Linked DNA regions of Homo sapiens: region 2 is linked to region 1. The links come from fine-mapping of genetic effects on gene expression. A gene starts in region 1. The other region holds a variant in brackets. All regions are shown on one strand. Distances are between the middles of the regions. Region 1 holds the start of SPRY2 (sprouty RTK signaling antagonist 2). Region 2 has its middle 26 kb from the start of LINC01080.

The links. PIP is the estimated chance that this variant, and not a neighbour inherited with it, causes the effect.
Region 2: its variant is fine-mapped to the expression of SPRY2 in whole blood (TOPMed, PIP above 0.99).

Annotation. Positions count from the first base shown.
Region 1 is chr13:80,337,955-80,343,328 of GRCh38, reverse strand. SPRY2 (sprouty RTK signaling antagonist 2) reads left to right here and starts at 2,203. Exons shown (of 2, transcript NM_005842.4): 1 at 2,203-2,707. RefSeq lists enhancers at 1-379, 4,350-4,399 and silencers at 197-386, 1,786-1,835, 2,066-2,255.
Region 2 is chr13:80,033,976-80,039,349 of GRCh38, reverse strand. No RefSeq gene overlaps it. Among named protein-coding and RNA genes, the nearest start is that of LINC01080, 26 kb to the right of the region's middle. The variant T/G (reference allele first, on the strand shown) is at 2,345.

The DNA of each region.
Region 1 (5,374 bases):
CATCGAGTGCAGGAGTTTGAAGAGGCGAAGCGACGGCGTTGCTTTCACCTGCTCTGCTCGAGAGACTTGCTGGCCGCACACCGGCAGCACGTTCCTGCCTAGCCTTGCACACCCAGGCTTTGACCCTCCCAAGCAGACAGGAGGGCAAGCTATCTTCTGTGTCGTTTATATTAATATCTTTGTATTCATTTTAAACCAGCCGGCCTAATGCACACACGTTTTGGAAGGTAACCCAGCCTGTCCGCGTCGTGTCCCGGAGAAGAAAGCAGCCTTAGCCCCGCGCCGGGCGGGCGCCCCCTGGTGGCCAGAGGGGCCGCGAGCGCAGCGGCGCCTGCGTTCACCGTCGGCTCAATGGATTCGGGCGTCCGGCGAGCGGCTGTGGCCAGAGAGGCCCAGCTGTTTTGCGCCCGCAGTCCCGGGACGCTCGGGAGCAGGCCGTTGTAGCCTCGTCCACCCTCACCTTAGGGGTCGGGGGACGTAGGCCAGCGCCCGGAAATAACGCATGCCACTTCCCTTGCCATCTCTGGTTCCAAATCCCTAGAGAAAGAGGAGAGCCCTAGAGAAACATGGAGAAGTCAGGGTGAGACCGCAGCGAGGCAGAGAGCGCGCTGGGGACATTCTAGAGCAGGAGCTCAGAAGAAGGCAGCTAGTTCCAGGGTAGCTGCAAATGGATTGGGTTAAAGCTGGACGAGTGAAGCACCATGTTTTCCTAACACTGCTTTCAAGAACACCCCGCATGGGGCAAGATCGCAGGTGCTATTCGGGAATTTTGACCGTACAAGCAGGTACTTCCCTGTAAAGTAAAAGCATTCTGTAAGTCGCTCGACAGAATGCAATATTAGGCGTGTGTATGCGCAAGTTTTAATTTTCCACTGGTGCTCCCACGTGAAGGCACATTTCTTAGTAAATGAACGGCAGCTAGGACAGTGCATATGTATGCATTTTCTATCTTTATTTTTTTTTTGTAAATGGGAAAGAATAGTGCACCTTCAACATGGACAACAGAATCTTGAGAAATGTTCTAGGTGGCAAGAAAAGTGGGAAATGAAGGATGACTTTTAGTTAAGGGAAGAAGGAAATCTGCAGTGAGCCAACCCTTCCCTCCCCCCCGCCCCCCCATTTCGGAAGCCCATGCTGTCGCCCTGAGTAATCTTGTTCCTGTCTATTAATGAATTAAGTTAAAAGGCTTAGACTGTAGACTTTAGCTACTGCATGAAGCAAAATAGTAAGGAAGCTCTTCAAAAAGCCTCCATTCATAGATAACCCCCCTTAAAAATGAAATTCTAATAAACGGAAAAACTACAAGTCGACACAATCAAAAGCAAATCCCAGCAAGAGCAGAAGGTACTTGAAACTCGAATCTGCATTCCGTTCCTCCCGTACAAGGCTCGGAGGTGGGGGAGGCGGTTTGTGCTGGTGCCTGGTGTATAATCGGGTTAATCCAGTAGACAAAGAATAAACCAATAGCCCTCCCACCTCACTTCCCGCTCCCCTTCCCCTCCCCCTTCTTCTCCCCCCGCCCCAGCCCCCGTCACCCGCTCCGCAAAGGGGAACAGAAAAGGGGAGAGGTAGACTTGAAATGGATTCTGGATAAAGTCTTAAAACCTGCAACTTGTTTTTCATGCTAACACTGCGTGGCCCAGATTAGTCTTAAATGTTCATTCCCCTTTCCTGGTGGCAAGGAGAAAGTTCCCTAAGTCAGCTCGAGCCTCTGGCTCGTCCTCATTGCCTCTGGGCAAACCTTAAGGTCAGTGTTTCCTTGAAACTAGATAAACTGACCCTGCAGTGCCCAGCCCGGCCCCGCGGGCGCCCCGCGTGACGGCGCTCGGGCGGCAGGACCGGCCTGGGGACGCGCGGGGCGGCGCGGTTGCCCTTTTGAATGCCTCCTGCGGCTCGGAGCGCTGGCGGGCGCTGGAGTGTGAGTGAATGTAGCCCCGCGGAGCCAATGAGCTGGGACCGGATGCGATATATCCTCTGGGACAACAACTGCTCTGTTCCGCCTCGGATCCACATGACGCCATTTACTGCTGCCGCGGCCGCCGCAGAGCTCCCTGCCTCCTCCGGAAAGGCGAGGGCGCAGGCCAACGGCGAGCCCCCCCCGGGCGGGCCCCAGACCCTCCTCCTCCTCCTCCTCCTCCTCTTCCTCCTCCTCCGCACCCACCGCCCCCGCCTCGGCCTCGCTGCCTCGCCTCCACAACGCCCAGTCTGCACCGCCGAGAGCTGCGCGCCGCAGCGCTAGCGGAGGAGAGGGGCCGGCGGAGCGCGCAGCGCCCAGGCCCCCGCGCCCGCCCGGCCCGGCCCGGCCCGCGCCCCCGCGCCGCCTCCGCTACGACGCGGCCCCGGCCGCACCACTTGGCGATCTGGCTTTAGGTTCTCCGTAAGGCCGTTTTCTTTTCCCATTCGCTCATCTGCCAGGAAAAGGGACTTGCCGTTGGCGCTTCGGCCTCTTGTTCATTGAGAAAAAAGAGGAAATACTCCGCGTGCGCTTGTAGAAGGGGAGTCGTCTCCAGCTCCGAACCCCGGAGTGTTCATCAGCGGGGAATCTGGCTCCGAATTCTCTTTTTTTCTCCCGCCGATTGCTCGGAAGTTGGTCTAAAGCAGAGGTTGGAAAGAAAGGAAAAAAGTTTGCATCGAGACTGGATTTATTTGCACATCGCAGAAAGAAGAGAATCCAAGGGAGAGGGGTTGGTGCAAAGCCGCGATCACGGTGAGGCACGTTTGGCTCTTCCCCTCCTGGCGCCGCGGCCGGCGCGTTGTGGGCAACATGGAGTAGGTGCAGCCGGACCAGGAGTTGGGTCCGTCTCTCCCCGAGCCTCCCTTTCTCAAATCCCGCAGGGTCTTCGCGAGGATCCGGGGCGCTCCCCGCGGACCTGCCTCGCCCGGGGCTTGGGCTCGGCCTGCCTCTGCGGGGACTTCTGTATGCACCCCGTGCAGTGTCCCCGACAGGCGACCCCGCGCGCCCGCGCTCTAGGGGGTTGGGACGGAGGACAGCTAGCCTGAAGTCTGCTCCCAGCCGTGCACTGGCCGCGAATTCGGCGCTGAGAGCGGGAGAGGGAGAGAAAAACACTTTGTATTTTCCAGGTTGCCTTTGCAGGCGCCCGCATTTCTAACCTGTTCTTCCTCTTGGTGGAAGGCAAAGTCCAGGGAGAGGCTGTCCCTAGGCGGGGCGCTGGTGGGGCTGGGGGACACAGGTTGCCCGCCTCGGGGGCAGGAGACTTCCAGGGTGAGAAAAAGGCAGGGTGCCGGGTGGAGGGAGTGCCCGCCTCTGCTCCGTGTGGACAGTCTAGCCCGGAGCGGGTGGGAGCGTCGCCCTGCCTGGCGCCGGGTCTCTGCGGTTCGGAAGTGCAGCTCTCTCTCTTCCGTTCTTCGTGGTCAGCCTGGGTCACACTTATTTTATTTTTGGAAGCTCGGGCTGACCCAGCGCAGGAAGAAAGTCATCAAGCGGTCGCGATCATTTTCCATTACCTGAAAGTAGGTGGCAAAATAGGCAATTTTTTATTTCCTTTTGTTGTTGTTGTTGCTGTGTTTTAATTTGGATTCTTGTGTGTTTTTTACAAAGCAGTTTCTGTGTCCGTTTGCCCCACCCTAGAGCTGAAGTTCTTTTCCCCTAATCCTCAGTCTGATCACACACTGTTCTTAATGGGGGTTTCAAAGCACTTTCAAAGGGGAGGGGGGACTGGGAAAGAGAAGAGGGGCGGAGGTAGGGAGTCCAGCTTTGAAGAAGGAGGCCAGGGATCGGATCGGCAGAAATCACTTAAAAAATAAAAACAAAAAAGCCCCCTTTTATTTCAAAGATGCTACTTTGACTGCAAGCAAATCTGCACCGAAAGTTTACAGCTCCGGGAGCTGGGTCCTGCGCGCCCGGAGTGAGCAGTGGGACCCTGGAAAATGCCCTTTTTTTAAAAAGCCATTTTTCTTTCACTTTAAGAAATATGATATCTTTTTTTTTTCTCTCGACCCAAAAGGAGATAGGCGTGTGCAGATTACAGGCAATGCCCCCTTCGGTCAGTGCAGCGTGGAGTCGCCGTGTGTGCGTGGGTTGGACTTGTGCGTCCTGGCTGCGTGTCTCAGGCAGGGCTTTCGTGCTCGCAGTGTCGGGGTGGGAAACCTGTGCCGGATGTCCGAGGGGCTTTGCAGAAAGCCTGGCAGTGGGCGGCGTGACCTCTGCCTGGGGGCGGAGTGGCTCCTTGGGGCTGGAAGGCAGTTCTCTTGAGTTGGGGGAGATCTTAGCTGGGGAGAGGGAGGCGGGGGAAGTGTGCTCCTGCATTTCGTGACACGTACCCTTCGGAGGCGCCCGCGGCCCCCGCCTGTCTGAGTCTGGGGATCGTAAGCAGGGGGGCAGCCTGGCCCATGGACAGCGTCAGTCCGCCTGGAGAAACTCCCCTGGGGATCGGCTGTGTCCCACCTGCTGGGGACGGTGTTGGGGCACAGAGAGGCGATAAACTAAGTGAAAGCAAAGAGCAGCGTTGTCTTCTGCCATTCTTTTGGAGGTGAGGAGATCCGGTTTCCAGCACTGCCTTGCTCCGAATTGGGAGACGTTTGTCACCTGCCTTGTTCGCTGTGGCCTCTATTCTAAAGAGCGGAGATCGGATAAAGGTCCACTTTTGCCTGTTTTATACTTTTTATTGTCATATAGGCTTGGGAAAGGGGGTGATCGTTTTGAAATTGAAGAAGGACTGCAGTTTAAGGAATTCCTTGACAGAATGCTAGATACGAAATGTGACATTTGAATTTTTAAAACGCTTTTCTGGTTATTATCACTTCGTTTGTGTTCTCAATTAGCAGGGAGAACAACCTTTTAGCTGCAGAATCTAAGGTGGTGTTCTAGGCTATCAGACTGTAAAATAGTTAATTCTTAAGTTGTTGAGAAGTTGAAAATAAATTCATGTCTTCTTCTTGTTAAGTTTGCTTTAATGTGTTTCTGGCACCTAATAGGATTTGATTTGCTTTTAGTTCTATAACTTTGTGCTACTATACAATTAATAAAAAATGGCATGATTGTTGTAGAATTTGGGTATTTACTTTTTTGCATGCCATATTCATTCTACCTGGTTTGAAAAAGTTACAGAATGCCGTATACGTCACAGTTAAAGTGTTTGATGTAAAAGTAAAAATTAAGAACCAAGAAAGAATCTTCTAGGTTGCATTATTAACGCTTAAGGCAAAAATGACTATGACAAATGGAAACCTATTTCAAATTTTGAAAGGATTTTCAACTTTTGAAAACATTGGTAGCAGTGTTATATTCCAGCAATACTTCCTTGCGATTTTTACGTTGAACCTGAACCTTACAAATTGTATGTTTCTTTGAATAAGGAATTCTTACTTAAGTGACTCAAAGATCAGTTTTGTATTGTTGTACATCACAGGATTA
Region 2 (5,374 bases), 300 kb after region 1:
TTTGTCTGGATAGTAGTTTGATCATATCATATTTTTGCTAAAGGATTCCTAACAGACTCTGACACCTTATAAATTTAAGTCCAAATTCCTCAACATAGTTCACCAGGTTCTCGTCATGGGACTTACTGTCTTCCTTTCACTTCCTCTTGCAAATCAAAACCCACCCTCTGTTTCAGTCAAGGTCTTCTTCCTGCATTCATGCTGATTTCCCTCTCAGAGCCCAGGCTGTCCCATACCCATTCATCTTTTCATACATCCAGTCTAAGATTCCAAAGAAAGCATACTTTCTGGACCAGGTGCTACTCTGGGCATCATGTCAGCACAAAGGTGAATAAGGCACAGTCTCTGTCTTTGAGGAACTCATAGTTTAGGGTTGAACGTGGACATTTAACCAAATATATAAAGTAACACAATGAAGTAAGGACATTCAAGATTAATTAAGGAAGGGATTTATTTTAGGGAATGACATAACAGAAGAGGCTGTAGTTGATTTGAACCTTGAAGAATAAACAGGAGTCTATCATGAGCATTTGGATTTTGTCTGGTAAGTTTTTTTAAGTCTAGTATAGGCCTTCAAAAATATTTGTTGAAAGAGCTAGCAAAATGCTAAATGAGTTTTGGTGGTGGGGGGTTTGTTTTGATATACTTTTCTTCCCCAGTTCTGACAACAGCCTTGTGAAGTTGGTAAGGCTATTAGAGCTATACAAATAAGATACAGGCCCAAAGGAAGTTGACCCAATAAGTGGAAAATCTGAAACCACATCCATTCTTCTGACTCTAAGGCCTTTGTTCTATCTACTCTGCCTTTCTACCTCCCTGAGTGCTCTTTTGAATTTCCTGACTGCTCCCATCACAAATAAACACAGAGCAGATACTCAACAATTGTTTATTGATTGAGAGAAGCATATAACTTTGATGTCAAAATTTTAATACAGATTTTCCAAGCCCTTTAATAGCCCCTAAACTGGACTTTATATTTCTTTAACTTGGCCCGTTGACATTTCTCAGTCTTTATACTTCCTGAGGCAGGGATAAACTGCTTGCTTATTTGAAAACAAAAGCATGCAGACTATAGGCCATCAATAGTGACCGTGTTGAAGAATCTCACTCCTAAGCTATAGTCAGAATAGTGTTAGAAGGAAAAACAAGAGGCGGAGGCATGTCCACAACCATATAGGAACTTCTCAGAAGCCACTTATCTCTTGGGCAAATAATACCAATTACTCTGCAAGTTTTCTCTATAGCTCTAGGGCATGGTGTGACACTTTTTAGTTGCCCAAGTGCTACTTTCAGAGGTTCAAAACCACAGAATGGATATTCATTTCCACGACTGCATTAATGTATCTCCTTACAGAAGGAACGGAAAGTCTTTTACTCAGTGTCAAGCTTTCCCAGGTCTTTACACTTGAGCACCCGCCAGCTTTTCTACAGGCAAGTCATGGGGTCATAATCGGGGAGCAATGTTCTCCCCAAATGTATGCTTTCCTTTCAGATAACTCTCCCAGAACACCCCACTGACCCTTTGTGCCCTAGTGATGGAAGAACATTTTTAGGTGAGATGGTGTATTTTACATAATGTGTTCCCAGATGCTTTCCATGAATGACTCAGGGCAGGGTAAGCTGCATAAAATTCTGGTGCAGCGGCCGGAAGAAAGCTGCACTCTGTTTAAGCATGAGTGTTGTGTTGTGAGCAGGCTGAGTAATGATGTTCTGTGAGTGACTAGTCTAAGGAAAAGCCAGTGAGTAGGAGTCAGGCTCTCTGACTTCAAATGTCAACATAGATGGAACAAAAATGAGCAGGTTAGTTAAACTCTTTGGGCCTCAGTTTCTCATTTGTGAAGCAAGAAAATTAATGCCTATTTTTGCCCATTTGACTATAGTGGCAGGAAAGGTCATGTGTAAAGTCAAGTTGACTCTTATTTATTGAATGTTTCACAAAAGAAGCATACATGTCATCAGAGAATATGCCTGAAGAAAAAAGAGATTGTTTCAACCAATGTTTAGTGTCTGGTGCCAGGGATATGGTAGTAAACAGATGTGTTCTTGCCCTTAAGGGCTCATGTGGTAATTTAGGAAACAGAGACTAAATAATTAATTGCACATTTAATTATACAATTAAATGTGATAAGTATCACAGAAGAGAATTATGTATAAGAGTATAAGAACAGAAGAAGACAGTCTAGTCTCAAGAAAAGGTTCAGTATGGGGATGACATTTAAGTTGAATTGTGAGAGAGGAAGGGTAAATTGGGAAGTGGCAAAGATGTGGGAGATGCCTTTTTAAAAAGAGGAAGTGTTATACGTAAAGGTTTGTGAGGCAATTGCATGTGGCAGGAACCTAGAAT[T/G]GAAAGCAGGACTTCGGGGCTAGGGGCAGTGAGTGTGGTACTACATGGTGCTGAGGGACCACTGGGAACCAGCTCACTTGGGGCCTTGTATGCCAAGTGAAGGGCTCCAAATGGTTATTATAGGAAGAATGAGAGACTTTACAGAGTTCTAATGAGAATGGCTTGATCAGATCTTTTTTATAATTACACTGAATGCAGGGTGGAAAATGAATTACTGAAGCGTGAGAGTGCATAAAAGGACACCCAAAAGTACATTTTAAAAATGGAGTCTACCCAGTTCCTTCCTGCCGTGTAACAGGAATCCAGGGCCACCATTTTGGTGCACTTGAATAGATCCTGACTTTTTGTCCTTTTATGCATATCCCACCACACTTAATGTTCTTATATTCTATTCTTTCTAAAACTCTGCATAAGATAAAATGTGATTATTTCTTGATTTGATGTTGATAGGTGGTAAGCTAGCCTCCCCAACTAACATAGCTATATTCTAATAGTATTATAACTATCTTTTCTCTTCATTAATATTTACTAAGAAAATAAAATCTAATTGTAGAGATAAGTTAAAGATAGATGGATGAATACATAGATATATAGACAGGTGAAATATAGATAAGTAGATAAATAGATGGATGGATGGATAGAAAGATAGATAATATAAATTAGTACGCTTTTAGCTGCAGGAAACAGAAATCCCACATAATAAGTCTTGAGGCAAAGCAGCTCCAGGTTAGTGAATTTGTTGGCTCATCATCATTTTAAGAACCTAATTATTTTCTTTATTTCTACCTGACTATCCTCAGCATATGGCAATCTCTCTCCTTTTTTAAATTGCATGTATGTTTGTGGGGTACAATGTAATGTTTTCATATAAATCTTGATGGTCACAAGCTGGTTGCAGTTGTCTTGCAATCACATCCCATCAATCCAGGGTTCTGAAAAGGGTTTAGCTCTTCCAGGTGTATTCTTGAGAGAGAAGAATCCTGTCTCAGAAGCTCCTCAGACAATCTTATTCATGTTTCATGCTAGGCAATTCACAGGGGAATGAAATGCCTATTATTTTCAATTTATTAACTCAATTATCTTAGAGTTATTACAACTCTCATCCTGGAACTGAAATTTAAGGCAGGCTTTCTTGAAGCAAAAGGCCTTGGTGACTCCCTATAGAAAATTAGGATTTATTATTAAGGAGAAAGGGGAAATGGCTTTTGGATGGCTGAGACATCAGTGGTGTCTGCTTCACATGTAAAAATTAAAGGTAAACCACAAAAACAGTCAAGCAAATGAATGATACTCAAAGTGTCATGTCAGCTTGCAGCATCAACATTACCTGTGAGGGTGTGAGAAATGTTAATCCTCTGGCCCTACTAAGGACCCACTGAATCAGAATGTTTGAGGGTGGGCCCAGAAATCTGTGTTTTAGGTTCAGCAAGTGACAGTGATGGAGAGAATAGTTTAAGAATCATTGCTCCAGAGTAAAAACATGTTTCAGAAGGTTGAATGACACCAAGCAAGGAGTTGAAAACGTGGATCAGAGCTGGGGGAGAGGGATCAGAGCTAGGAAATTTGACTAATCAATTAAAACACAGGCCTTATATCATGCTAGTAAGGGAGACATTTTGCAAGGAAGCCATTTACCATTCTCTGAATCATATTACCTTCTTTATCTACTGGTAGAACCATTTTGGCTGCCAGAATAAGACAAATGGTGTAAAGATAAGAAAATATTCTACAAAAACTATATGAGGAAATAATTCACTATATGATAAATAATTCACTGGGAATAATGCCCAGGCATGAAAGTATTTGAGTAAGTTTAGAATTTGGAAAATAGATAATAAATTCTGGGGCATAAATATGGAAATGAAAACATGGAGTGGCTGGAAGGCATGCTGTTTTACAGATCCAGAATAACAATTATAGGTTCTTTCTCTGGACATTCCCAGATGCTGATCAAACAACACTTGATACAGCTGCAAACTGCCAGCTAGTAAATCTATATGGAAATTTACAATCTACCTGGGGAATACTTTTGTGAATCTGAATTGTGGGAGTGGAGATGAAAGTTTTCATGTATTATTTTTTATTTGTATGAGTACATGTGGAAGCCACACACCTGCTATAGATGTTGCTCAAGGAAACACATAAGTCTGGCTTATAACAGGCTGAATTGTTTTCGAAATAAAAAGTGTAGAAAAGAGTAGAACAGAGTCCACAAGACCATCCTAAGCTCGTCATCTGGAAAAGGAAATGTGTGGATTTCTGTTGCTTTGGCATATCCCAACATCACGGCCAACTGAATCTAACCATAAAAGGCTTCCTTTAGAAGAGAAGAAAAGGGCAAAACAGATTCACAAGAGGACTGGAAGCAGAGATGTTAACACTTAGGAGGTAAAAGAGAAAAATAAGCTAGACATCGAGCCATAAGAATAGTCATCTCCAAAAAGCACCCTGGCTAGCCTCAACCTTGTTCGAAATGTACTTGTACGCAATTAGTTTGCATACTACTTTGAAGTTTTTGGAGGGCTTCTTCTCAAGCCGTGGTTCTCAAATTGTAATGTTTATCAAAATTACCCAGAGAGTTTGCTAAAACACAGGTTTCAACTCAGTAGGTCTATGGAGGGCCTGAGATTGTGCATGTCTAAGAAGTCAGAAATGCAGTTTGTTTGAGGACCACACATTGAGAACAACTTAGTTAAGATTTTTGAAGTTAATTTTTTTGTATTTTTTAATATTTTCTACTTTTCATTTTTGCTGATACACACACACACACGCACAGTCCTCTGACAAGACCTCTAACTTGCTTCATAGTCCAGGAACATGGGATTACTGGTGACTGAAGACAGCTAGAATAACACTAGGTTTCGTACCTCTCATGCTGATCACCCAAGACACTTACAACATTAGAAGGGCAGAGGAGGAAGTTCTGCAAGTGTAACTTTTATTTTTCATTTACCAAACAGAGGAATGAAAGTCTCTTGGAATTCTAGATAGAATGTAAGTATTATATTAGGAAGGAAATAAGGGGAAAAA